2 separate regions of the Homo sapiens genome follow, and region 2 is linked to region 1. Evidence: fine-mapped expression QTL. A gene starts in region 1. The other region holds a variant in brackets. All regions are shown on one strand. Distances are from middle to middle.

Region 1 (2,910 bases):
CCTGTGTATATCTCTATCATAGCACTCAGGAACTGCATTATGTTTATTTGCTTACAGGGCTATCTTTCCCAGTTTTTTTTTTTCTTCTCCATAGAACCACAAAGTCGGATAAGCTGAGTTTCTTGAGGACAAATTCAGTAACTTGTAAATATTTGAATATCCAAGAGTTGTAGAGTACCAAACTGTGGAGCTCAATAAATTTCAGATGAACTAAACTGAATAGTCAGGTGGGATGCTAGATGGATGGGTCAGGAAAAAGAATTTTCTTTTTTCTTGCAAAGTGTTGGGATTACAGGCGTGAGCCACCGCGCTTAGCCAGGAAATATAATTTCTTTCTTTCTTTTTTTTTTTTTTTTGAGACGGGGTCTCATTCTGTCGCCCAGGCTGGAGTGCAGTGGTGCAAACTCGGCTCAAAGCAACCTCCGCATGCGGGTTCAAGCAATTCTCCTGCCTCAGCCTCCCGAATAGCTGGAATTACAGGCGACCGCCACCACACCCGGCTAATTTTTGTATTTTTAGTAGAGACGGGGTTTCACCATATTTGCCAGGCTGGTCTGGAACTCCTGACCTTGTGATCCGCCCGCCTCGGCCTCCCAAAGTGCTGAGATTACAGGCGTGAGCCACCGCGCCTGGCCAGGAAAGATAATTTCCAAGTACGAAATGTTGTAGATTGGGAGGACCTCAGTAGCTTGGGAGAAGTGCACAGTGGTGAGTTATAGGACGGCAATGAGGTCATGGAACTATGAAGTCAAGGTTAACAATAACGCGTGCAGGCAAAACTGAAAAGGGGCGGAACAAGGGGTAGCGGGTCTCCAGGACCTGGCATTAGGACGTGCGTGTTAGGGGGCAGGTATTTGGAGCCAGGCCCCACTTTCGAGTTGTCTTTCCGCAGGAACCAGAGACTGCGGACGGGGCCAGGAACCAGGAACCGTTAGGGAGATAAGGAAGGTGTTATAGCCCACATTCATCCTATACGGCCACAAGGCCGGGGGGCCCAGGCTGCCTCCTCACAGCATCAGCTTTTTCTTCGGCTTCATTTCCCTCTGGAAAGCGCTTTCTCACAGACGCTGCAAAGACCGAAGGGGCAGCCCCTGCCCTGCTACCCTCCAGGGAGCCACCGCTCTAGAGCCCAGGCTCCTCTGGACATCATGTGACTTGGGGGACGACTTGCCTTTCTTCTGAAACACGGCTACAGACTATAACTTTAAAACACGGGGCTTAGCTCCCCCTCAATAACGACACGGCCGTCAGTATTTACCACGTTATTGACCCTCTCCCAGCCGGCCCGCGGCAAGAAGAGTTCCACTTCCTTCCCGGAAAACGCGGCCGGAAGGGGCGGGCTTTCCGCCTGCACCAGGCGCTTCCGCCACCATGGCTTCACGTGGGGTTGTTGGCATTTTCTTCCTCTCTGCTGTCCCCCTTGTGTGTCTGGAGCTCCGGCGTGGGATCCCGGATATAGGTAAGTGTGACTTTTTCCCTTCGACAGTCACAGCTGGGTAATTTTCACAGGAATGTTGCATAGAACGACCGCCTCTTCGGCTGCGTGGCTTCGGAGCAGCTTTGACTACAACTCCCAGACTGCATCGCCCCTGCCCCCCCACTTCCGGAGCTGACTTCACTTCGAGGAACCTTTTCCCTCCAGGTGTGATGGTTTTACGTGTAAGAGGGTAGAGGCAAAGAGCACAGGGGCAATCATAGACAGTGCTTTCGCATCCTGGCGAACACTGAAAAGGAAATAAACAGGTTGATAAGATGAAGGTCTTGTGAGAATTTAGGCTGAGAAGTTTTTTGTTTTGTTTTTAGAGACAGGGTCTCACTATGTTGCCCAGGCTGGTCTCGAACTCCTGGGTTCAAGAGATCCTCCTGCCTCGGCCTCTCAAAGTGCTGGGATTACAGGCCTACGCCACTGCGCCCGGCCCTAGGTTTAAATAAGGGGCCACGCCCGTGAAAAGCCAGTGGGGGCAGGGAAGGGATGGGGGAGGGGAGGAATATTTTAGGCAAAAAGATTGTGACACGTTGGAGGAAAAGGTGAAGGCCATTGTGGCTGAATCAAGGAGAGTTGGGAGGAGGAGGAGGAGGAATTGGCTCAGGATAATGACGTTTATTGAACACCTATTATAAGCCAAACACCAGGTGCTGGTTATTATCTCATTTAATCTGCACTGCAATCAGAGGAGGGTAGGCACTATTATAATCCCCATTTTACAGTTGAGGGAACTAAAATTTAGGGAGGTTAAGTGACTTCCCTAAGTTTTAAAAAGGTCACTCGATTCTGTATGGAGAATGCTTTGGACAGAAGCTATGGTGGAAGCAGTGAGGCACATCAGGCTTTGGAAGTTGACAAGTGGTGATGATGGCCTGGACTAGAACAATAACAGGAGATGAAATGTAGACAGAATTGGGATATTGACGGAGTAGGATCAACCAACAGGCTTTGTTTATGGGTTGATGTTTGGGGCAAGGGAAAGGAAGGATTCAAGGACGACTGCCTCATGGGGGACTGAGCAAACCTAGGTATTTGGTAGTGCTACTGGTAAAGGGGAAATGGAAAGAAAAACTGTGGAGATGCTGAGAATCATGAGTTGATTTTTGGACATTTCAGTGATCAGTTTACATGTCTGTCTCCCTTTTTAAGGTCAATTCTAAAGTTAGAGACCATAATGAAACTTGGCTTTGTGTACTCCCTCTCTTTCTCCACATTTTCTCCCTGCTCACAAGGAGTCAGATGCCTAGAAATGTTGCGTGCAATAAGAAATGAAAATAAAATGCTTTAAAAAAATGTACAAAGACTGTCCTGAAGCTTCTCACTCACTCAAGCTGTGTTGGAATATAACAAGACCTTTATCCAAAGGATCAGAAATGTTGAATTCACACTCACCATTTCCGCAATTCACCTGTTCCCTTGTCTTT
Region 2 (2,910 bases), 26 kb before region 1:
GCCATTGCACTCCAGCCTGGGCAACAAGAGCGAAACTCTATCTCAAAAGAAAAAGGAAACAAACAAACAAACACATTAGAGACAGGGTCTTACTATGTTGCGCAGGCTGGTCTCAAAATGCTGGGCTGAAGCAGTCCTCTCACGTTAGCCTCCCAAAAGTTGGAATTACAAGCATGAGCCACCGCACTCAGCCTTCTTTCCCCTTTCTCTAGCTCAGGGCTCCCTGACCGCCAGGTGCCTATTAGGAACCAGGCTGCAGCAGGAGGTGAGTGGCGGGCAAGTGAGCGAAGCTTCATATGTATTTATAGCTGCTCCCCGTCGCTAGCATTACTGCCTGAGCTCCACCCACTTCCTTTCAGATCAGTGGCGGCATTAGATTCTCATAGGAGCGTGAACCCTATTGTGAACTGTGCATGCAAGGGATGTAGGTTGCACACTCCTTATGAGAATCTAATTGCTGATGATCTGTCACTGTCTCCCATCAGCCCCAGATGGGACCAACTAGTTGCAGGAAAACAAGCTCAGGGCTCCGTCGGAGTCTAGTTTATGGTGAGTTGCATAATTATTTCATTATATATTACAACATAATAATAATAGAAATAAAGTGCACAATAAATGTGATGCAGGCTGGGCGTGGTGCCGCAAGCCTGTAATTGCAGCACTTTGGGAGGCCGAGGCGGGCAATTACCTGAGGTCAGGAGTTCAAGACCAGCCTGGCCAACATGGTGAAACCTCCGTCTCTAATAAAAATACAAAAATTAGCCAGGTGTGGTGGTGGGTGCCTGTAATCCCAGCTACTTGGAAGGCTGAGGCAGGAGAATCGCTTGAACCCAGGAGGCAGAGGCTGCAGTGAGCCGAGATCATGCCATTGCACTCCAGCCTGGGCAACAAGAGTGAAATTCTGTCTCAAAAAAATAAAAATAAATAAATAAATAAATAAATAAATAAATGTGATTCACTTGAATCCTGAATCATCCTGAAACCATACCCCACTGCTGGTCCGTGGAAAAATTGTCTTCCACAAAACTGGTTCCTGGTGCCAAAAAGGCTGGGGACTGCTGCTCTAGCTGACCTGTGCATCAGGTTGTTAGAGGGAGCACAGGCCTCAAGTCAGACAGATAGGAGTTTGACTCTCAGCTCTCCCATTTAGTGGCTAGAGGTGG[G/C]TGAGTTTCCAAATTTCTCCTAGCTCAGTTAAGGGAAGAATGCTTCCATTATGGAGATTTTGAGCAGGTCAGAGATAAGGTATATAAAGCATCTATTTCTAATCTATGATAGATGTGATGGTGACTCTGATACCTCTGAATTATTTCTGCGTCTGCTGGCTCCCCACACGCACACAAGGCATACGGAAAGGCGGAGATAAATTCCCCAGGGGCCTTCCTACCTAAAACACATCAGCTGATCACAAAGGAAGTTTGCCTCCCAGACTGGAGCATTATCAGATGAGTTCTCAGGGCTCTGGTTGCCCAGAGTTGCACATTGCTAAGACCCTCAGCATACAACACTGGCAGATTCCCCGGTTCTCCAGGTGGGCATTAATGAGGGATAAGAAACAAGTTTCTTTTTTTCTTTTTGAGACAGAGTCTCACTCTGTCGCCCAGACTGGAGTGTGCAGTGACACAATCTCAGCTCACTGCAACTTCTGCCTCCCAGGTTCCAGTGATTCTTAGCTTCCCGAGTAGCTGAGATTATAGGCACGCACCACTATGCCCTGCTAAGGTGTTTTGTTTTTTTTTTTTGCTTTGTTTTGTTTTGAGATGGAGTCTCACTCTTGTTGCCCAGCTGGAGTCCAGTGGTGCCATCTCGGTTCATCACAACCTCTGCCTCCTGAGTTCAAGCAATTCTCCAGCTTCAGCCTCCCGAGTACCTGGGATTACAGGTGCCCGCCACCACGCCCAGCTAATTTTTAAATTTTTTTTTTTTTTTTTTTTTGAGACGAGGTCTCACTCTGTCATCAGGCTGAAGTGCAGTGGTGCGATCTCGGCTCACTGCAACCTCTGCCTCCTGGGTTCAAGCAATTCTCCTGCCTCAGCCTCCCGAGTAGCTGGGACAACAGGTGTGTACTACCACACCTGGATAAATTTTTTTTTTTTTATGTATTTTTAGTAGAGACGGAGTTTCACCGTGTTAGCCAGGATGGTGTCGATCTACTGACCTCATGATCCGCCCACCTCGGCCTCCCAAAGTGCTGGGATTACTGGCCTGAGCCACCGCGCCTGGCCAATTTTTGAATTTTTAGGAGAGATGGGGTTTCACCATGTTGACCAGGCTGGTCTCAAACTCCTGGCCTCAAGTGATCCACCCACTTCAGCCTCCCAAAGTGCTGGGATAACAGGCGTGAGCCACCACACCCAGCTAAGAAACAAAATTTCACAGGCTGTTCAGTAAATACATCATCAAGGAGACTCCTGTAACTCAGCCTCCCTTTCCAAACCGATGATCCATTCCTGAGAGCTTCCTTTTCCAACCAATCTAGTGTTCAGAACCCCGATCAGTGGGCCTGCTGGCATCAATCTAGTGTTCAGAATCCCGATCAGTGGGCCGCCTGTTATCTGGTGATAACAGGTGGCAAAATTCAGAAGCTTCACCATTTTTCCTAGGGCCTGCCTCGTTACCTTCAATCCTGCCTAGCCAGGTAGAAACTTCACATTGCCCATGTTGGCAGTAAAACAAGAACTTGGTTAATCTGCAATTGCGCCTGCCAAGAACATCAACTGTGTTCAATAGTGAACTTGCGGCTGGGTGTGGTGGCTCACGCTGTAATCCCAAAACTTTGGGAGGTGAGGTGGGAGGACTGCTTGAGCCCACGAGTTAGAGACCGGCCTGAGAAACATAGTAAGGCCTCGTCTCCACAAATAAAAAATTTAAAAATTAGCCGGGTGTGGTGTTGCACGCCTGTAGTCCCAGCTA

Which allele goes with the higher level. Alleles are on the strand shown, and positions count from the first base shown. SD is a standard deviation of normalised expression in the study named.
For the expression in cerebellum of the gene that starts at base 1,346 in region 1, G is the high allele of the variant in region 2 and C is the other (moderate effect, 0.52 SD a copy in GTEx).

The links. PIP is the estimated chance that this variant, and not a neighbour inherited with it, causes the effect. A credible set is the group of variants that fine-mapping cannot tell apart.
Region 2: its variant is the best candidate, but not a certain one, in a credible set for the expression of UBXN8 in cerebellum (GTEx, PIP 0.87).

What each region holds. Positions count from the first base shown.
Region 1 is chr8:30,742,819-30,745,728 of GRCh38, forward strand. UBXN8 (UBX domain protein 8) reads left to right here and starts at 1,346. Exons shown (of 8, transcript NM_005671.4): 1 at 1,346-1,459. The coding sequence starts at 1,372. LOC105379356 (a long non-coding RNA gene) reads left to right here. Exons shown (of 2, transcript XR_005646967.2): 2 at 893-1,254. It overlaps LOC105379355 (a long non-coding RNA gene), which reads right to left and starts at 859. Exons shown (of 2, transcript XR_949634.2): 1 at 1-859. RefSeq lists enhancers at 855-994, 1,029-1,997, 1,235-1,314.
Region 2 is chr8:30,717,194-30,720,103 of GRCh38, forward strand. All of the region lies in intron 1 of GSR (glutathione-disulfide reductase), which reads right to left. Among named protein-coding and RNA genes, the nearest start is that of GSR, 9.2 kb to the right of the region's middle. The variant G/C (reference allele first, on the strand shown) is at 1,164.